3 linked regions of the Homo sapiens genome follow. The protein of the gene in region 3 interacts with the protein of the main gene of each other region in a biochemical or structural test. Each region holds a gene or a part of one and is shown on either strand. Other genes may lie near its edges. The genes, in order: TRIM31, USP13 and RHBDF2.

Region 1 (7,105 bases), on a different chromosome or scaffold from region 3:
GGTTGGGAGAGAAGGGGGACGTGGGAATGTAAGGAAGAGCGAGAGTGGTCGGGCTCATGGGGTTTGATGGACTGTGACCCAGGCTGGCGTTGCTCCTCTCCGGATTTCACTCCTGGCTGAACTGGTGCCTTCGGTAAACAGCTGCTTAAAGAGTGCGGGGACTGCTGCAGGGACTTCCTTTTTCCACTAGGCGGCACCACAGCCAAAGTGATAAGAAGTCAAGCGTGGGGCGGGTGGCTGGAGATTGTCTCTTCCCCTCCTTTTGCTCAAGAATTCGTCCATTCCTTCTCCAACTCTCTTCACCACCACCCCCGCCCCCATCTCCACTCTCAGTAGCCCGAGCCCTCCCATTCTCCACTCCTTCGACCCAATTCCACTAAGTCAAGAACCGTGGTCGGTCTCAGCCACTCACTCAGCGCCACTCTATGCTCCGAAGTCCGTGTAGCACCACCGCTCCCCGTGTTCTCTGAGCTGGCTTAGCTTGAAGGAACCTCACAAAACCAAGCCCGGATCGCTGTCAGCCACTCACTCAGTGCCGCATGGAGCTCCTCGGACAGCGCAACGTCAAATGTCTTCGTATCCTGAGAGCTCGCTCCTTGACCAGAAATCTCATCATAAGAGGCCAGGAGACATACTGGAAAAGTGACTTTCCCAGCAGACGAGGCCCGAAACAGGGAGTGGGATGGGGCTGAAGAGTGGTGATTTGGTGGCCCCGATGTAGTTCTGCCGCCTTTGCGGGAGAAGGAAAGGAGAAAAGAGGTCAGCGGGAGCACCTCGGCAGCAATCCTCCATTGCCAGACAGCACAGCTGAGCTCTACATACAGCAGGAGGGATGGAGGTGAAACTCAAGAAAGTACACCTGAACAAGTCGGAGCGCCCTCTGTTTCCTGGCAGAGGTGTAATTTGGGGAGGAACTGAGGAAATGGAATAAATGAATTCATTCATTTATTCATTTATTCCATTTAGTGGAATTGGGTGGATACAGCATTTTGACCACCTGTAGACTTAGAGGTCCCTTAGTATTCAGAGACAGGACTCTTACCTGCAGAAGATGACCCGGGCTCTGAGGTTTTGTTCATTTTATGATTATTTTTCTGTAACAAGCCCCCTAAAAATTGGGGAGAGAAAACCTATTTGGTCTTGATAACCAGAAGCTGCAAATTAAAAACAAAAACAAGCACCCTGCCATCATCAATCAGAACAGTCAATGGTTCTCAGTGGGACCCATTCCCCACCCAGGGGGAAGTGTGGAAACCTTTCAGGTTGTCTCAGTGACAACAAGAGTGTGGTTCTCTACTGGCTTATAGGGCTTTCTGGGGCCTGGGATACTAAGCATTTAACAGGGCAAAAGTCATGGAGCATAACAAAGATGGCCTTTCTAAACACCGGTAGCTCCTTTTGTGGAGAAATGCTGGTGGAATAGGATCCCTAAATCCTGCTCTCTGGCTTTGGAATGCATTCTGTAGTTTCTGGCTTTGGAGAAAGGAGTTCTAATTCTCTCTCTTTCACTTAATGATCATATGACCTGGGTAACTTACCTCCCCTCCCGGAAGCTACATGGACCTCACTGTAAGTTGCAGATAATAACACCTATCTTGGAGGATAGTTGTGGGGTTTTGAAATATTAGATGCGCACATAGTGGTCCTTTAAGAAATGGTACTTCTACTGTTATTGTCTTAGGTGGCAGAACCATATCTAATGACTTTAGCACAGGCTGTTATTACAGTGGGTCTCCATCCCCTGAGCTGTACTGACCTCACACCCAGAGGAGTTTGCCTCGAAACCTGCTGCCCTGTAGGGGCAGCAAATACTACAGAGGTGGAGCTGCCTCCTTCTTGTCCCACTTTTTCCTCCCTGTCTCTAGGAGTGAAGAAATACATTTGTAATTTTCTATTACTTCTGAATACTTCAAAGTTTGGGATTAGTGACTGTTTTGTGAGTTACCTGAGTTTAAAATAATAAAACAACCATATGCCTGTTCTCTCAATTGGCTGAGGAATCGGCATTCACTTATATCTGGCCTTCATGTAATCATAGAGACACAATTCTTCCCCTTTTCTCACTTTCCCCAAATGGCAGAAGCAACCAACCATCATTTCTCACTTACAGCTCTTCATGTCATTTTTATTCATGCTTTTGAAGAATCTGTTTTCATCTTTTTTCCTATCAGCCTGGAGTTGGTCTGGGGAATAAAGAATGGGATGAAATGGTGAGAGTCCAGAGGGGTTGAGCAAAGAACTCACTATCACACAGCAAGGCACTAATTTGAAATGCCTGGGAGAAGTAGAAGCTGCATTTGACTCTCATATTCTTATTGGACCAGGAAGGTATGCAACCCTTGAGAGATGCCCTTTCTGATTTCCTGTGGTGACTGCCTAGCCCAGCACTGTCCAGTATGAATGATGAATGTAATCTGAGTCACGAATGTGAGCCACTTATATATTTTTAAATTTTCTAGTAGTCACATTTAAAAAGTAGAAAGAAACTAGTAAAATTAACTTTAATTATATATTTTATTTAACTCAATATTCTCAAAATGTTATTTCAACATGTATTATAAAAATTATTGCTATCTTTTACAGTCTCTTTTTACACTCAATCTTGTGAAATTAATGATTCTTCACATATAGCATGTTTAAATTTGGACTAGCTACATTTCAAGTGCCTGTCAGCACATGTGGCTAGCAGCTACTAAATTGGACAGTGCAGAGCTAGCCCCTTTCTCACTGCCTGACAAAGGTAGGTGCTCAGGACAAAGAGTGCCTTGAGGCTTCACCCTTTAGCTTCAGAAGGCCTACTGTAGGGCTAACCACCCAGGAGCCAGGTGGGGTAAGGGGGGGCCCCACTCTCCTAAAGCCTGGATGGCAGTCCTGCCCTCTTTCCCATGAAAGAGGGCTTGAGAGGGGGAACGAAGACAGAGCTCCTGCAAGGGGAGGCCGAGTGCCTTCATCTCCCAGTTCACCCCTGCCAGAAGAGACTCCTTTTGCAGGTAGAGGATGAGCCCAGAAGCTGGGGACAATGGCCCATTCCTGGCCTAGATTTCCTGTAGGGGTGCTGGACTGAGTGGAGAACTATAGGGTGGAGCCCCTAGATGGGGAGCTACTTCTGGCCCCAGCACCCTTCCCCCAGTGTCTTGCAGCCCCAAGACAGCACAAGACAGCCTGGGGCTAGGTAGTGGGACAAGCGTGGGTAGCTTCCCTGAGAGCCACCAGCCCAGTCATGGGGACTGCTCAGGGGAGACGCGGGGGCCCTCTTAGGAGGGGTCTGCAAACCTAGAGCATAGGAAACACTGCCTGGGAGCACTTCACCTACAAGGGCCTTTAGCGGCTTCAGGGCCCAGCCACACCCTTCTCCACGTACGTGTTCCAGACCCAGTCACCCCGAGCAGGGAGAACCAACCCTCATAATAAGAACTGTGGAGATTGGACCTGTGGTATAAGTAGACTCCCTACCACCTCCTGTATTTCCTAGGCTTTAATAGGGCCAGGTGGCCATTGTGCCTTCTTCTTTGGGGTAAAAATAAAATAAAAATAAGAGAAAAAAAAAAGAAGGAAATAGGGCCAGGTGGGAGTTGGGGGACTGTGTGTGTGTGAGTTTGTGTATGTGAAAGAGGGAAAGAAAAGGGGGATACAGAGTAGAGCACACCAGTCTCCCCAACTCCAAACCTGATGAAGTGGAAAGGGCTGGGCTCCTTTATTGAAATTCCAAACTAGAACCAAACTATTCTTGACCTGAAGAGCCTAGAAAGGTGCTGGATCGGGCTGGACGTGGTGGCTCACGCCTGTAATCCCAGCACTTTGGGAGGCTGAGGCGGGTGGATCACAAGTCAGCAGTTCGAGACCAGCTTGACCAACCTGGTGAAACCCCGTCTCTACTAAAAATACAAAAAACTAGCTGGGCATGGTGGTGTGCGCCTGTAACACCAGCGACTTGGGAAGCTGAGGCAGGAGAATCGCTTGAAACCAGAAGGCGGAGGTTGCAGTGAGCCGAGATTGCGCCACTGCACTCTATCCTGGGCAATAAGAGCAAAACTCCATCAAAAATAAATAAATAAATAAACAAATAAATAAAGTTGCTAGATCGGCTGAGATCATGCCCAGTGGGGTGGGAGGAGCTAGACAAAGCAGAGCAGTTAGTGGACAAAAGAAAAGCTCAGACAACAAAATTAAGAATAAAACAAAACATGCTTTCCTGTTTATGTCTGCCGAGTGGAGATTCCCGGCTGAATGGGTGGAGATCTTGGGGCATTGCCCTGGTCCTCCTTTTCCGTAGTCCCAAGGGGAAGTGTTTGTGTATGGGGGGCTGGGGGTTGGGGTGGGGGAGGTGGGTGTGGAACTCCAGGTGATAATTTCAGAAGATTCCATCTAGCTGTCTTTATGCCCACCTTAGACCAACACAGTCTTCACATTAAGGGGAGTCCTTACAAATACTAACCCTTCTTCCTAGTTGCAAACACAGAAAGGTTTATGAAAAATATCTGGCGAACATCTAAAACCCAAGTCATCCACTACTGTTCTGCTGATTTCTGTTTCCCTGTAAGGCTGGAAGAGGTTTCTCCCCAGAATGTCACTGATTTTGAATTTATTTTCTCTTCTTCTGTAGGCAGGAGGAGACACCAGTGTGCACCAGAGAAGGAGAAGTCAGAGATGACAGTCCCTGCCTGAGGCCATCTCTGGTCCACCAGACAACTCATCACCAACTTCCCAACAGCCACTGCTCTAGGCCAGGTGTCCACATGGGGAATAGGTCCAGGCCCTCTATGGCTCTCGCAGGAGTCAGGGAGGCAGATAAATAACATATCACAAAGACAGAATATAAGAAATGCCTGGGAGGAGGCATACTGATGCGTGGAAAGTACTCAGCCAGAAGCCTGGCACTAGAAGGGCCCAGGGATTGTTGGCATGTATGAGTCACAGTTCCATTTCAGTGGAGTGAGCAGGGAGAGAATCTCCTGGAAGTAGGTGAATAGAGAAAATACAGCCTCTTCCTTACCTTTGAATTTTTTTAGGCTCCCTGTGATGGAGTCATGTCTTGATTTTGCTTCACTGAGTTTTTTCTCCAGTTCCAGAGGAACAGGGGTTGGGTTGAGAAACTGAAACTCTTCACTTCTAGGAAGATGTGGTTGAGCTGGTTGGTGAGATCAGGGGATGAGGTGTGGGAGAAGGAGGATCTGAGATACGCGGTTGAGAAATGAGGGGATGAAGACCTGGGGGTAGAACTGAGAGCAGTGGCTCACACCTGTAATCCCAGCACTTTGGGAGGCTGAGGCGGGTGGATCACCTGAGGTCAGGAGTTCAAGACTAGCCTGGCCAACATGGTAAAACCTGGTCTCTACTAAAAATATGAAAATTAGCCAGGCTTGGTGGCAAGCGCCTGTAGTCTCAGCTACTTGGGAGGCTGAGGCAGGAGAATCACTTGAACCTGGGAGACAAAGGTTGCAGTGAGCTGAGATTGCACCACTGCACTCCAGCCTGAGCAACAAGAGCAAAGCTCCATCTCAAAAAAAAAAAAAAAAAAAAAAAAAGAAGACCTGGCGGTTAAGGGATAGTGAGCTGGGAGTCAGAAAGTCAGGGCTAGGGATATGGGGCGGGAGTGAGGTAGGGCATAGGGAGATATGGAAATGAAGATGGGAGATGGAGACAGAGAGGAGGGAAAAAAACAGGGTCAGGGAGACAGAGTAGGGGACCCAGGAGCTATTCAGTTGAGCAAGGGGGCATTCAGGAAATAGTAGAATCTGTGCTGAAGAAGGAGGAAGGCTGAGAAAACAGCTGGTTTCTTTAACAACCAACCACGTGCTAATATGGTTGGCATAGGCATTCCCCGGCTGCAGCCTAAATGTATGAATGCAGAGTTAGAGGTGGGTGGGTATTTCTGAGAGAGGAATGTTGACTGCATTTGGATATACGCTGAGAATTGTGTGTGGATGAATCAGTAGGCAAAATACATTTGGGGTGGCCCATCATACCTGCACAAGACGACTTTGATATCCTAGAAGAGAAAGAGAAACAGCACAGCCTCAGCACTTGGCTGATTCCCAGGAGCCAAGGAGGAGATACAGAGCCTGCTGGGTGTGGGGCAGAGCAGGAGGAGTAAGAACCCCTCCAAGTCTCTCTTACCCCATCCTCCTCCCCTCTCCCCACCACGAAGGGCTTCTCCAAGAAGCACTGCTCTGCCAGTAAGCAGAAAAGTGTTTTGACCTCAAGAAGAACTGAGTGAAGAAGAGAAGAGTGAGATTTAGAAGATGAATTTGGCTCTGAGACTGAACAAGGGAGCCTGCTAGCCAGGGCAGGAGAAAGGCTAGAATGGCTTTGCATGATCTTTCTTAAAATAAATAAATAGGTTTTTGAACCTGTGGGAGAATAGATGACTTGAGGAGGAATCATCTCAGCTTATTTTAAGCACCAGCTAGACTTGCACTGTCCAATATGGTAGCCACCAACCACATGTGGCTACTGAACATTGGAAATTGTGGCTAGTGTGACAAAGAACTGAATTTTTAATTTCATTTTTACTAATTCAAATTTAAATTAAAAATAGAGGCCAGGCACGGTGGTTCACGCCTGTAATCCCAGCACTTTGGGAGGCTGAGGTGGGCAGATCACTTGAGGTCAGGAGTTCGAGACCATCCTGGCCAACATGGTAAAACCCCGTGTCTGCTAAGAATACAAAAATTAGCTGGGCGTGGTGGTGGGGACCTGTAATCCCAGCTACTTGGGACTTGGGCCTAGGAGGCGGAAGTTGTAGTGCGCCAAAATCGCGCCACTGTACTCCAGCCTGGGCAACAGAGCAAGATTCCATCTCAAAAAATAAAATAAAATAAATAGAAGAAGGGTAAAGTACTTTTTCCATTAAACACAACTTTATTGATTTGGTAAGACTATATTTTACTTTAACAATTGACAATTTAGCATCTGAATTGAGATGTGCCAAAGTGAAAAATATACACACAATTTCAAAGACTCAGTGTAAAAAAAAAAAAAAAAAAAACCACCAAAAACCCAGAATGTGAAATATCTCATTAATACTTTTAAAATATTCATTACAGGCTGAAAGGATAATATTTCAGATATATTGAGTTAAAATATTTTATTAAAATTAATTTCA
Region 2 (7,105 bases), on a different chromosome or scaffold from region 3:
TAGTTTTAAGTAAACAGGAAGAGTCTCATCCTGTGTTCTTCATAAGGTTCATAGTGCAGGGCCTGGCACATAGTAAACACCCAGCGAGTATTGGCCACTATCATTATTTACCTTCTTTGGGCTGTAGTTTTCTCATCTGGAAAGTGGAGTTTATGGTGGGTTCTGCTCTGCTTGCCGCTTAGGGCTGTTAATTTGCATGAAAGTATCATAAGTCCATTTCATTTTTATACATTAGCCACAGCAGAACGGGATCTCTCCGCGCATGTTTAAGGCCTTTGTAAGCAAGAGCCACCCGGAATTCTCCTCTAACAGGCAGCAAGATGCCCAGGAATTCTTCTTGCACCTGGTGAATCTAGTAGAGGTGAGTAGTCAGTCTTCACGGATGCTCAGCGGGGTTGTAAGAGGGTGCCGAGCCACTCAGTGCAGTCTGCTGTGGCTTGATCAGAATGCCTCCCCACTCTCTTTCTTCAATCTCTCCTGTTAAAGCTGGTTCAGAATCAGATCCCTGGAAACTCTCTGCTCAGCCAACTTGATGTGACTGCTCTTCACACTCCAGTTTCCAGACACTTGTGGATCTCTGTGCTTCTTTTAACCTGTATGTGTTATAGGAGTGCTTGCCAGTTATTCCATTCACAATTTATTTTTTTCTGGTCTTTGTGACAAAGTTCCTTAAGAGCCCTGCGTGGTATTTGGTGTCCTCCTGCCACTGCTCAAAGATGATGAGTCTGCTTACATCAGAATCGAATGCCATTAAAAACTTTTTTTTTTTTTTTGAGACTGAGTCTAGCTCTGTTGCCCAGGCTAGAGTGCAGTGGCACAATCTTGGCTCACTGCAACCTCTGCCTCCTGGGTTCAAGCAATTCTACTGCCTCAGCCTCCTGAGTAGCTGGGATTATAGGAGCCTGCCACCACGCCCGGCTAATTTTTGTATTTTTAGTAGAGATGGGGTTTCACCATGTTGGTCAGGCTGGTTTTGAACTCCTGACCTTGTGATCCACCCGCCTCGGCCTCCCAAAGTGCTGGGATTACAGGTGTGAGCTGGAAAGCCACTGAGAATTCCTGAGTAAAGCCTTTTTTTTTTTTCCTGGTTACAACAGTGTTCTTTGTGGAAAATATAGAAAACACAAAGGAGAACATCAAAATCCCCCTTAATGCCACGCCCTGCAGCCAGCCAGTGTTTTTTGTTTGTTTGTTTGTTTGTTTGTTTTTGTTTGTTTGTTTTTGACAGAGTCTTGCTCTTGTCGCCCAGGCTGGAGTGCAGTGGCACGATCTTGGCCCACTGCAACCTCCGCCTTGCAGGTTCAAGTGATTCTTCTGTTGTTTGTTTCCTTGTTAGAACTAGGCTGCAGTGGTTTCTCTTGTCTGCCTCAGGGTTACTGATTCACATGTCTGCTCAGGTCCATGATCTTTTCTAACTCTGTTTATCATTTATTAGTGATAACTTTTTTTTTTTAGAATAAAGCCTCCCGAGTAGCTGGGATTATAGGCACCCACTACCATGCCTGGCTAATTTTTTTGTATTTTTAGTAGAGACGGGGTTTCACCATGTTGGCCAGGCTGGTCTCGAACTCCTGACCTCAGATGATCCACCCGCCTCCGCCTCCCAAAGTGCTGGGATTACAGGCATGAGCCACTGTGCCCGGCCAACAGCCAGTGTTCACAGGTTGGCATCTGCCCCTCCCATCACTTTCCAGGTCTTATGTTAATTCTCTACATGCTCTTCTGTAAGCAGTGTTTTCACTTAAATGTTTGCCACATCATCACATCTGTTAACAGAGCATAATTTCTGTTTTATTTGTACCTAATTTACATGAGTGTATTTATATAATCATATTGTACATGTTTTTATGTTTCCAGGGCAGCCCTTTATTTTTTTCCCTTTCTCTTTTGATTGGCTTCTCCTCCTCCTTTCTTCTCATTCCATGAATTTCTCTCCCATGGTTTTTAATTTAATAATATTGAAATAGTAATCCATGATGAACTATATTTTATTTTACCAATCCCCATTTTTGGACTTTAGATAAATTCCAGTGTTTTTCTATTAAAGTGCTTTGGTGAATGGGCATGGCCAGAGGAAATGTTTAATAAAGCCAAGTGTTTACACCGGGTTTAGAGTTCATTTTCTACTAAGTCTTAGTGGCTCAATATTCATACATTTACTAACCTGATACAATCCATCCTTCAGAGGAACCGCATCGGCTCAGAAAACCCAAGCGATGTTTTTCGTTTTTTGGTGGAAGAACGCATTCAGTGCTGTCAGACCCGGAAAGTCCGCTACACGGAGAGGGTGGATTACCTGATGCAGTTACCTGTGGCCATGGAGGCGGCAACCAACAAGGGTAACAATTCCAAAGCGGGAAATTGGTACTGTGTGTCTTCATATGGGAAAACCCTCAAATCAGAGAGAATGGTTTAGTCACTGAAGTGTGTCAGGAGTAGACCCAGCCCAGGTGATGTCTGCTTTGCACATCTCTTTTCATCTCTTTGTTAGTTCCCATGTGACTTTTCCTTTGAGAAGAATCAAATGCATCACAGGTTTTATGGAGGCGTTATGGTTGGAACCTACGTCACTGCCTATAAATTTGGCCAACTACTGAATATGGAGTCAGCATAATTTTGGGGAAAATTATTGGTAATGATGTATGTAGAAAATTCTTTAACACTGTCATTTATAAGTTGTGCTATAAAGTCTGAGGGAAATGATCAGGACTGCATTTTTTAAAGTTAGACATTCGAGCAGAGGTCTCTTGAAATAATCCAGCTTTGGCACATGAGTATTTGAGCCACCTCTTCTGGGAGATAAATTGTGTCAGGGTTCTTTGTAGAAGCAAAGCCCATTAGAAGGGTCTCTGGGCTTTGGAAGAGAGAAGGAGGCAGAGATGTGGCACTCATGTTTGGTGCCTTCTCCTTCCATCAGTCTAAGCTGGTTCTTCCTAGGCAGAATAGACAAATGGCATTTCTTCGAATTAACATCGTAGAAGCAAAAAAGACAAAATAGCTGCTGGATTGTGCATCTCCTGTGAACTAGTCATTTTTGTAAAGTTCAGCAATTCCACTATGCAGCCATGAAAAGGAATGAGATCATGTCCTTTGCACATGGATGAAGCTGGAAGCCCTCATCCTCAGCAAACTAACACAGGAACAGAAACCAAACACCGCATATTCTCACTCATAAGTGCGAGTTGAACATTGAGAACATATGGACACAGGGAGGGGAACATCACACACTGAGGCCTGTTGGTGGGTGGGGGGAAAGGGGAGAGAACTTAGAGGACAGGTCAGTAGGTGCAGCAAACCGCCACGGCACACATATACTTATGTAACAGACCTGCACGTTCTACACATGTATCCTGGAGTTTTTTTGTTTTTTGTTTTTTTTTTTGAGAATAAAGAAAAAAAAATTCAGCGGTTCCCTGGATGGCCCTTTTTGCTCTTTCTTGTGTGTGGGGGGTGGTGGGTCAGTTTATGATGTTAGTTGGAAAGTGATGATTATGATGATTTAAGATGAAACGATTTTCATTTTCTATATGCTCATGCAGTTTTTGATCAGTTTCAAAATCCTTTTGGTGTAGAAACAAGGGAATGGGAGTCTGCTGTTTGTTTCCTTGTTAGAACTAGGCTGCAGTGGTTTCTCTTGTCCGCCTCAGGGTTACTGACTCACGTGTCTGCTCATGTCCATGATCTTTTTTTAACTCTGTTTATCATTTATTAGTGATAACTACTTTTTTTTTTCAGAAAGGAGATTTATAATTTAGTCTCTGGAATTTGACTGTTGGGAACACCTAATGTTAGCAACCTAGATATAAGTACATCATAAACTGATTGGGGACAGGGGAATGAATTTTAAACCATCTAAGATGTGTTTAGGAAAACACATATGTGCGTAAGTGTACCTACAAACTGATAAATAAGGAGTTTTTTTTTTTTTTTTTTTGAGTAATACAAAAGAAATGACCAGAAAGGCCATTCAAATTGACATAAAATTTTGACTACAGGCTAGTTTCCAGGACCAGATCTGCTGGTGCTTGGGAGGTTCCTCTTTTTCCCTTAGTATTTAATCATTTGAGTAGGAATAGCACAGAGGCCTTCTGGGTTGGTAGCCCTGATGTCTGAGGTGTTGGGTAACCTCCACAGGAAGTTGTCTCGGCAGTGTTGGTTACTGTCATGGGTTGTTTGATGGTGGCTAACTGCAGTCCTGTAGTTATCCTCCTCCTTGGCCTCACAGGGACCCATGTGGGACCCATGACCTCTAATCATAGTTGCTGGTGGAACCAAATCAGAAAATGTGTAACACTCGATCTGGCTCTTGCCAGGCGCTTAGTGGTGGTTCTGTTTTTTTTTTTGTTTTGTTTTGTTTTTTTCTGCCTTTGGTTATTTTATTTTAAAACAGCTTAAAGTTAACAAGAATGTTTTTGTTACTTTTGTGTATGTGTGTGTGATCATTGGCAAAAATTGATCCCCTTACACAATGTAACATCTCTTTCTGGCCTTATCTGTTGGGTTGTGGAGGGAGTGCTGATCAGAGTTTTAAGTCCAGCTTTGCCAATAATTGGCTGGTTTTGACTTTGGGCCTCAGTTCTTCAGCAAGGCAGTGAAGGACTGGGAAGACGTGAGCCCTTGGACCTTTTCTGGCTGTGAAATACTCTGATGCGAAGGCCTTGTGTTGGGAGGATGGCATTTGAATAATCCCAGTATTGGCCTTTGGACAAACCAGGTTCATGGGCATTTATATCACACACATGGTCTGGCCCTCTCACCCACCCAGGCCAGGCCAAGCTCACACTTCCCTCCTGTCAGTCGCAAAGGGGAGCATGCAAAAAGATGTAAATGGCTTGATACCACCTGTTGGTGCAACTCTAAAGACAGCCCCAGAACAGCCTTTCAGCAGGGGCATCTGGCTCTGTAAAGGGCGACAAATAAGCAACTCTGGCCCAGCGCAGAAGCCTTCAGGGAAGACTGTCCAAAGAGGGTGCTTTTCATTTCCACAGGGTAAGAGCGATTGCAAGGTCTTTGATTTGCTCTTTCACCCAGATGAACTGATCGCTTATGAACTAACGAGAAGGGAAGCAGAAGCAAACAGAAGACCCCTTCCTGAGTTGGTACGTGCCAAGATACCATTTAGTGCCTGCCTTCAGGCCTTCTCTGAACCAGAAAATGTTGATGATTTCTGGAGCAGTGCCCTACAAGCAAAGTCTGCGGGTGTGAAGTAAGTGTGTGTATATGTGGTGGCAGTGGGGTGAGGAGGGGCCTTGAGGGGTGGGGACAGGGGTAAGGGAAAGGGGGTGGGTGTTATTTGTGTCTGTGTGTGTTTGTTCATGTGTGATGGATGGGATTATGGTTCACACACCCTAACTGTCGTCAAACTTCACTTGTGTGAGACCTGTCCAATAAAACAGGCCTGTGATTTATATTACGTGCTAAGGAGGGGTTTTCTTTTTTCTTTTTTTAAATGTAAGGTTGTGATTTATTCTCTATTAGGAGCCTTCCTTCCTTCCTTCCTTCCTTTCTTTCTTCCTTTCTTCCTTCCTTCCTTCCTCCTTCCCTTCCTCCCAACCTTGACCCCACCCCCAGCCCCTCTCTTACCAAGAGGATACAGCCAAGAAACAATCCCCTACCCGCAAATGGCAAGAATGACATTATTCATGAAGAAATTACAAAAATGCTGAAGACAGGCCTCCATATTTAAACTCCATTGTGCTATATTTTAACTCCATAATTAAAGACTTAGTCTAGAACTTGGTTGGCTATGTTTCTCCTTGGAGACTAGGAGTCTCAGGACATCTCAAAGTGGACAGGAAGTCTCCTGAGCATTGTTGAAACGAGCCGCTCAGGGTTTAGTCAGATGTCTTGTTTTCACATTGTGAGGCTGGTTGTCAGACACATAAAAGTTTTTTTTTCTCCGTCTGCCACCCTAGTTGATTTGATGCAGTCGAGTCCTTGCCAACACACTTCATATCACTGCACTTAATTGGAAAAAGAGTGCTTGCAGTGGCATAAAACAAAGGGAGGTCTGAAAGTTTGGCTCCAGGAGTTTTGCTACGTTCAGATATTCTTTGGCCATTTTTCTTTGAGGCTAAGATTGAGATTTTGGCTAACATAAAGGGGATTAAAGGATGGAACGGCTGGTGTGGGCTGTTTTTACCATGGCCTCAATAGCAGTTCAACCTATATATATATATATAAAATTTTATATATAAAATGTATATATATAAAATTTTATATATATACATATAATATATATAAGTATTATATATATTTTTTAGAGGGAGTCTCGCTCTGTCACCCAGGCTGGAGTGCAGTGGCATGATCTTGGCTCACTGCAACCTCTGCCTCCCAAGTTCAAGCAATTCTCCTGTTTCAGCCTCCTGAGTAGCTGGGAATGCAGGCACATGCCACCAAGCCCGGCTAATTTTTGTATATTTTTTTTTGTTTTTTTTTGAGACGGAGTTTTGCTTTTGTTGCCCAGGCTGGAGTGCAGTGGCACAATCTCTGCTTGCCACAACCTACGCCTCCCAGGTTCAAGTGATTCTCCTGCCTCAGCTTCCCGAGTAGCTGGGATTACAGGCCTGTGCCACCATGCCCGGCTAGTTTTGTATTTTTAGTAGAGATGGGGTTTCTCCATGTTGGTCAGGCTGGTCTCGAACTCCCAACCTCAGGTGATCCTCCCTCCTTGGCCTCCCAAAGTGCTGGATTACAGGCATGAGCCACCGCACCCAGCCAATTTTTGTTTTTTTAGTGGAGACAGGGTTTCACTATTTAGCCAGGCTGATCTGGAACTCCTGACCTCAGGTGATCTGCCCTCCTCAGCCTCCCAAAGTGCTGGGATTACAGGCATGAACCACCATGTCCGGCCTCAACCTATATTATTTGTTCTCTGTGAAACCCCTCCCTCAGGCTTCTGCTATGTTTCAGATTGTAGAGTTCATATGTTAAAAACAGGAAAGCAAAAACAATTTATTTCAAAAAGGAAAAACAAGCCATATTTGTTAAAATTATTTTTAAAAAGCTCCCTATCCAAGGGAGATTAATAGTAGTTCATTCAGGTATCAGTTGCCCATCACTAAGTGAGTTTTTATCCTAGGACTGCTCAGTTGTAGGTGTGGGT
Region 3 (7,105 bases):
GGAAAGTCACCATTGGGGCTGACGGGCATGTGGCTTCCCAATTCATTGTGAAGAGCCCGTCTGTTCAGCTGTGTCCTGCCCTTGAATTGAGGTTCCGGGGGGCAGTGTTTGGGACAGACTCCTTACACTGTATTTTCTTGTCCCCCACCCCAGGAAGAAATGAGCTCCATGCCTGATGATGTCTTTGAGTCCCCCCCACTCTCTGCCAGCTACTTCCGAGGGATCCCACACTCAGCCTCCCCTGTCTCCCCCGATGGGGTGCAAATCCCTCTGTGAGTGCTGGGGCAGAGTCCCTCCTCCAGGCCAGCCACCAGCCTGGGGGCATCCCCAGACCTCACCCTGGCCCCCAAGCCCCTTCTGAGCACCCTGGTGGGGTCTGGGAGTATTTTGGTGGGGGATTCAGGCTGAAAGCCACCATCCCCACCAGGAAGGAGTATGGCCGAGCCCCAGTCCCCGGGCCCCGGCGCGGCAAGCGCATCGCCTCCAAGGTGAAGCACTTTGCCTTTGATCGGAAGAAGCGGCACTACGGCCTCGGCGTGGTGGGCAACTGGCTGAACCGCAGCTACCGCCGCAGCATCAGCAGCACTGTGCAGCGGCAGCTGGAGAGCTTCGACAGCCACCGGTGAGGTGTCGCCCTGGAGCCCCCAGGAGAGCCTGGAAGGTTCCAAATTCCTCTGGGCCCTCCTGAAGCGCCCCCTTACTCATTCAGCAAGTGTTTCATGAGCATCTTCTGCGGATCAGGAGTGTAGTGACAAGCTCGAAGGCGCACCCTGTCCCAAGGGTTGTGCACATGACCTGGGAAGGGCCAGGGGTGCTTGCTGCCTCTCTTCCACCCCATGCTTTCTGAGCCTGGTCCCCAGCCTTGCTCCCAGACAGCAGTCAGTCAACAAATGTTCATTGAGTGTCACTGCCTGCAGGCCCTAAAATGGAACCCCCAGAGGGTGGAGCAGGGAGGGCAGGGTCGGTCAGAGGACAGTTAGAAGCTGGGGCCAGGGCTGGGCGCCGTGGCTCACACTTGTAATTATAGCACTTTGGGAGGCTGAGTCAGAAGGATTGCTTGAGCCTAGGAGTTTGAGACCAGCCTGGGCAACATAGTGAGACCCTACCTCTACTTTAAAAGAAGAAGCTGGGGCTGGGAGGGAGGGGACTCTGGGAGAGGCTATGCAGAGCCCTTGGGGAAGAACAGGGCATCTGATTTGCAGCAGCCCAATAAACACTGGGCCCAAATTAGAAAATAACAAGCAGGCAGGGCGCGGTGGCTCACGCCTGTAATTCCAGCACTTTCTGAGGCCGAGGCAGGCGGATCACCTGAGGTCAGGAGTTCAAGACCAGCCTGGCCAACATGGTGAAACCCCATCTCTACTAAAAATACAAAAAATTAGCCGGGCGTGGTGGTGCATGCCTGTAATCCCAGCTACTCGGGAGGCTTGAGGCAGGAGAATCACTTGAACCTGGGAGGCAGAGGTTGCAGTGAGCCAGGATCGCACCATTGTACTCCAGCCTGGGCAACAAGAGCGAAATTCCATCTCAAAAAAAAAAGAAAGAAAAGAAAAAGAAAATAACAAGCAATGGCCAGGCCCGGTGGCTCACACCTGTAATCCCAGCACTTCGGGAGGCCTAGGTGGGCAGATCACCTGAGGTCAGGAGTTCGAGACCAGCCTGGCCAACACAGTGAAAACTGGTCTCTACTAAAAAGACAAACAAAATTAGGCAGGTATGGTGGGTGCTTGTAATCCCAGCTACGAGGGAGGCTGAGGCAGGAGAATCGCTTGAACCTGGGGGCGAAGGTTGCAGTGAGCTGAGATCGCACAACTGCATTCCAGCCTAGGTGACAGAGCGAGACTCTGTCTCAAAAAAAAAAAAAGAAAAGAAAAGAACAAGCAATGATAGGTGTGGTGGGTGTCCCGGAGGAGGATAGAGAGGGAGAGTGAACAGCTGGTGGGGAGGGGTGCAGTCAGGACAAACTGTGATGTCATGTGCAAAGGCCCTGGGGCTGGAAGGGCAAAGTACATCCCAGGAAATGCAGGCAAAGAGGCCAGAGAGGTGGTCGGTCAGGCAAAGCTTTGCAGCCAGCAAGAGGGGGTGATTCTGGAATTTGTCCCAAGGCCAGTGGAAAGCTATCAAAAGGTTTTAAGCTAGGAGAGAGATGCTTGGAGGCTCGTCTTAAAAGTTCCTCTGGTTTGAGATGAGTTGACGGGGCAGAACAGGGAGCCCAGGCGAGCCATGTGACCAGGCCAGGGTGGCCCTGTGGCCGGGACTGGGGGTTGGGATAGGAGCTCGGCTCAGCTGACCCGAGGTGTCTCTGCACAGGCCCTACTTCACCTACTGGCTGACCTTCGTCCATGTCATCATCACGCTGCTGGTGATTTGCACGTATGGCATCGCACCCGTGGGCTTTGCCCAGCACGTCACCACCCAGCTGGTGAGTCGGGTCAGGCTCCATGCTGGGGGTCCCAGCCTCTCCTAGGAGGCCTCAGTGTCGTGGGTACCTAATCCCTCCCACCGCAACAATCTGGCCCCAGCAGGGTGGTGCTCACCATAGCCTGGCCCCTTCCTGGAGGCTCTATCCTGGGGACAGCTGCCCCAGCTCCCCATGCCCAGGGCCCACACTGTTCTGACGCCCTCCTCTGTGCTACCTCCACGATAGGTGCTGCGGAACAAAGGTGTGTACGAGAGCGTGAAGTACATCCAGCAGGAGAACTTCTGGGTTGGCCCCAGCTCGGTGAGGGCCCAGGCTGGGGGACATCATCTGAGCCAGGAGTCCCTGTGCCCTGTCACTCCCAGCTGGGCAGGTGGGCTCCTCACCCACCCGCAGGCCCCTCATCAGGGGAGACTCTGCGGGGCAGAGGTGGAGTGATGGACCCCTCCCAGGTCTGGGGCTCAAACTCACTCTCTCCCCTCCCTTTCCCTTCCCCAGATTGACCTGATCCACCTGGGGGCCAAGTTCTCACCCTGCATCCGGAAGGACGGGCAGATCGAGCAGCTGGTGCTGCGCGAGCGAGACCTGGAGCGGGACTCAGGCTGCTGTGTCCAGAATGACCACTCCGGATGCATCCAGACCCAGCGGAAGGACTGCTCGGTGGGGGCAGGCCCTCCCTCCTACCCCTGCCAGACCCTGGTCCCGGACTAGCTCCACTTGCCCTGTCCTTCAAGGGCAGTGACCACGTTCCCTCCTCCCCGCCCCACCTTTCCCAGACCCCCATAGATGAGACTGAGCCCTGGGGAGATGGGAAAAGCCTCTGTCCTTGCCCACTCCAGTGGGGGTGACCTGGCCCCGACATGACCCACCAGCCTTCTTCTGCCCTCCAGGAGACTTTGGCCACTTTTGTCAAGTGGCAGGATGACACTGGGCCCCCCATGGACAAGTCTGATCTGGGCCAGAAGCGGACTTCGGGGGCTGTCTGCCACCAGGACCCCAGGTAGGGCCTGGAGCCTCTGCTGGGCCTCAGGGTCAGGCATAGCCATGCCATCTGAGCCACCCACAGGGACGTGGGTAGGTGGACGTGGCACGCTGGGTGTGCCACAGCCCAATCTGAACCCTGTCTCCAGGACCTGCGAGGAGCCAGCCTCCAGCGGTGCCCACATCTGGCCCGATGACATCACTAAGTGGCCGGTGAGTGTCCCTGGCGGGGAGTGGTCTGGGAAGGTCAGGGATGGGGGACCTGCCTGCTGCACAGCCCACTTCCCTGCCGGTGCCCCCTCCTGGCAGATCTGCACAGAGCAGGCCAGGAGCAACCACACAGGCTTCCTGCACATGGACTGCGAGATCAAGGGCCGCCCCTGCTGCATCGGCACCAAGGGCAGGTGAGCGACCTGGGCCCTGGCCTCAGCCATCCCACTGCCCCCCCGAGCTGCGGCTTCCTGTGGGCCCTCTGCTCCTCCACCGTCACCACCCACAGCCGCTGGGCCGATGCCCTCCAATAACTGTCCTTTGCTCCCCTGCTCTGGGGCTACCCATGGTGCGAGCTGGAGGAAGGAAGCTTGCTCCAGAGTCGAAGGTTCTGGATGCGGCATCCCCCTTCCTGCCAGCGATGCCTCCTGTAGCCAGGTGCTGGGCTCTGGGCAAAGGTGGGCAGTGGTTATTCGGCGCCCTGATGTCCCCTCTTGCCTCACCACCCCCTTAGCTGTGAGATCACCACCCGGGAATACTGTGAGTTCATGCACGGCTATTTCCATGAGGAAGCAACACTCTGCTCCCAGGTGAGGCGAGGCAGGCCTGGAGTAGTGGAGGAGAGGACGCTGGGCATGGCAGCCTGCTGGGGCCGGGGCTCACGCACTCCCTCCCATGTCGGAGCCTCAGACTCAGCCTGCTTCTGGGGCGCTGAGCACCATATGCCCACTCCCAGGTGCACTGCTTGGACAAGGTGTGTGGGCTGCTGCCCTTCCTCAACCCTGAGGTCCCAGATCAGTTCTACAGGCTCTGGCTGTCTCTCTTCCTACATGCTGGGTAAGAGGCTCCTCACTGCCCCCGAACCCGACCCCTGTGATGGCCACCCAGCCGGACCCCTGGGGAAAGGTTCCTGGGCCAGGGCATGGCCGGCCCAACCTGCCGAAGCCTACTGCTCCTGAAGTGCCTGGCTGAAGGCCGCTGCCTGGTGTGTCCCTCCCCCAGCGTGGTGCACTGCCTCGTGTCTGTGGTCTTTCAAATGACCATCCTGAGGGACCTGGAGAAGCTGGCCGGCTGGCACCGTATCGCCATCATCTTCATCCTCAGTGGCATCACAGGCAACCTCGCCAGTGCCATCTTTCTCCCATACCGGGCAGAGGTAAGGATGTGGAGGATGGGACCCCTTCCGCACATAGGGGGCCAGCCCTGCTGCTCCTATTCCACCCACCTGGGATCTGCCAGAGGGACACGGTGCCCCTCCTGTACTGGGCTCCACAGCGGAGGGACAGCTAATCTGGGGGCTTACTGGCTGGTCTCTTAATCCCAGTGAGAGGGAACAGTGATGCTCTTGAGTCACCCTGTCCCTCCACCGCCTCATTTATCTTCCTAACCGTGCCCACTGCCTGACAGTATGCTAGGTATCTGCAGGTCGAGCGGTAGGAAATGGCCTCCGTGCGCCGTCGGCAGTCTGATCAGTTCCACCTGACTGATCTAGTTTGTTCAGTGTCCGTCCTCTCCCCACCGTGTGCGGCCTGGAACAGGCTTGTCTGTCTTGCTTATTGCTACGGACCCACACCAGGCACGTACACAGTAGGCGCTCAGTGTTTGCTGAAAGAATGGGCGGAGCAGGCCCAGCTTTGGTCCAGCAGCTCCAGCCGACCCCCTGCCCCTCAGCCTCAGGGGTCCCCATGCCTGCCAGGGAGGAGCTGATCGATGGGATGACCCAGGGTGCAGGCCCGGCCCAGGCCACCCACCTGATGCCTGAAGCCACGTCTCCCCTGCCCCGCCCCAGGTGGGCCCGGCCGGCTCACAGTTCGGCCTCCTCGCCTGCCTCTTCGTGGAGCTCTTCCAGAGCTGGCCGCTGCTGGAGAGGCCCTGGAAGGCCTTCCTCAACCTCTCGGCCATCGTGCTCTTCCTGTTCATCTGTGGCCTCCTGCCCTGGATCGACAACATCGCCCACATCTTCGGCTTCCTCAGTGGCCTGCTGCTGGCCTTCGCCTTCCTGCCCTACATCACCTTCGGCACCAGCGACAAGTACCGCAAGCGGGCACTCATCCTGGTGTCACTGCTGGCCTTTGCCGGCCTCTTCGCCGCCCTCGTGCTGTGGCTGTACATCTACCCCATTAACTGGCCCTGGATCGAGCACCTCACCTGCTTCCCCTTCACCAGCCGCTTCTGCGAGAAGTATGAGCTGGACCAGGTGCTGCACTGACCGCTGGGCCACACGGCTGCCCCTCAGCCCTGCTGGAACAGGGTCTGCCTGCGAGGGCTGCCCTCTGCAGAGCGCTCTCTGTGTGCCAGAGAGCCAGAGACCCAAGACAGGGCCCGGGCTCTGGACCTGGGTGCCCCCCTGCCAGGCGAGGCTGACTCCGCGTGAGATGGTTGGTTAAGGCGGGGTTTTTCTGGGGCGTGAGGCCTGTGAGATCCTGACCCAAGCTCAGGCACACCCAAGGCACCTGCCTCTCTGAGTCTTGGGTCTCAGTTCCTAATATCCCGCTCCTTGCTGAGACCATCTCCTGGGGCAGGGTCCTTTTCTTCCCAGGTCCTCAGCGCTGCCTCTGCTGGTGCCTTCTCCCCCACTACTACTGGAGCGTGCCCTTGCTGGGGACGTGGCTGTGCCCTCAGTTGCCCCCAGGGCTGGGTGCCCACCATGCCCCTTCCTCTTTCTCCTCCTACCTCTGCCCTGTGAGCCCATCCATAAGGCTCTCAGATGGGACATTGTGGGAAAGGCTTTGGCCATGGTCTGGGGGCAGAGAACAAGGGGGGAGACACAAGTAGACCTCAGGTAGAACGACACTGGGCGGAGCCACCCCAGGGCCTGCTCCCAGGGAGTGCTCGAGGCGCATCAGGCCCGTTTTTTACCAGTTTATATCACGGTCTTCATTTTTAAAAGTAACGCTAACTTTGTACGGACGATGTCTCATGGATTAAATAATATTCTTTATGGCAGTACATTGTCTTTAACGGAGACCTCAGGTAGCATGAAACTGGGATTTGGGGGTGAGGTGAGGGGTCAGCCATCAGCTGCTCAGAGACAGCAGTTTGGCCCGGTGGACAGCAGAAAACTTGTGGAGCATCTTGGGGAATTAGTTGGGCCAGAAAGCAGATTGGGGTCACGTGGGAGACCCCAGGGGTCCACTTGGGAGGGCTGGGTTGAATCCTTAGGGCCCTGGGGTTCCCACCCCTACCTGTTCTGCCTTGGCTCCAGAGCAGGGAAGGGGCTGCCTGGGCCCAGGGTGGCCTGCCCTGATGGGGATGGCACTGAGGGGACCTGTCACCCCACCCGGGGACGAGTCCACTCCCTGTGCCAGTGCCTCACCCACCACACTGAGGATGGCCAGTGAGGCACCGGGTATGACCACTTGATTACCATGGGCAGAGGGCCCTGCACCAGCTTCCCTGCCCCAAGCTGCCTCTACAGCACAGGCCTCCCGCCTCTGCCCCATCCTGCTGCTCCCCACTCTCCCCCACCCTAGGGGCTAAGGGTGGGAAGCGGCA

Evidence for each region.
Region 1: the proteins of RHBDF2 (region 3) and TRIM31 form a complex in vitro, tested with the Homo sapiens proteins (one study listed by BioGRID).
Region 2: the proteins of RHBDF2 (region 3) and USP13 form a complex in vitro, tested with the Homo sapiens proteins (one study listed by BioGRID).

The regions. Positions count from the first base shown.
Region 1 is NC_000006.12:30,103,060-30,110,164, forward strand, and holds part of TRIM31 (E3 ubiquitin-protein ligase TRIM31), read right to left. Parts: intron 5,990-7,105; coding exon 5,967-5,989; intron 5,129-5,966; coding exon of another isoform or gene 5,110-5,128; coding exon 4,994-5,109; intron 4,729-4,993; exon of another isoform or gene 4,604-4,728; intron 2,329-4,603; exon of another isoform or gene 2,184-2,328; coding exon 2,109-2,183; intron 1,109-2,108; coding exon 1,043-1,108; intron 731-1,042; coding exon 477-730; 3' UTR 187-476; coding exon of another isoform or gene 146-186; 3' UTR 1-145.
Region 2 is NC_000003.12:179,740,012-179,747,116, forward strand, and holds part of USP13 (ubiquitin carboxyl-terminal hydrolase 13), read left to right. Parts: intron 1-235; coding exon 236-361; intron 362-2,185; coding exon 2,186-2,339; intron 2,340-5,031; coding exon 5,032-5,206; intron 5,207-7,105. UniProt on the Homo sapiens protein: Deubiquitinase that mediates deubiquitination of target proteins such as BECN1, MITF, SKP2 and USP10 and is involved in various processes such as autophagy, endoplasmic reticulum-associated degradation (ERAD), cell cycle progression or DNA damage response.
Region 3 is NC_000017.11:76,470,347-76,477,451, reverse strand, and holds the end of RHBDF2 (inactive rhomboid protein 2), read left to right. Parts: intron 1-153; coding exon 154-272; intron 273-427; coding exon 428-622; intron 623-2,310; coding exon 2,311-2,422; intron 2,423-2,647; coding exon 2,648-2,722; coding exon of another isoform or gene 2,723-2,792; intron 2,793-2,917; coding exon 2,918-3,079; intron 3,080-3,309; coding exon 3,310-3,419; intron 3,420-3,549; coding exon 3,550-3,613; intron 3,614-3,709; coding exon 3,710-3,804; intron 3,805-4,124; coding exon 4,125-4,200; intron 4,201-4,346; coding exon 4,347-4,447; intron 4,448-4,612; coding exon 4,613-4,766; intron 4,767-5,399; coding exon 5,400-5,819; 3' UTR 5,820-6,556; downstream 6,557-7,105. UniProt on the Homo sapiens protein: Regulates ADAM17 protease, a sheddase of the epidermal growth factor (EGF) receptor ligands and TNF, thereby plays a role in sleep, cell survival, proliferation, migration and inflammation. Does not exhibit any protease activity on its own.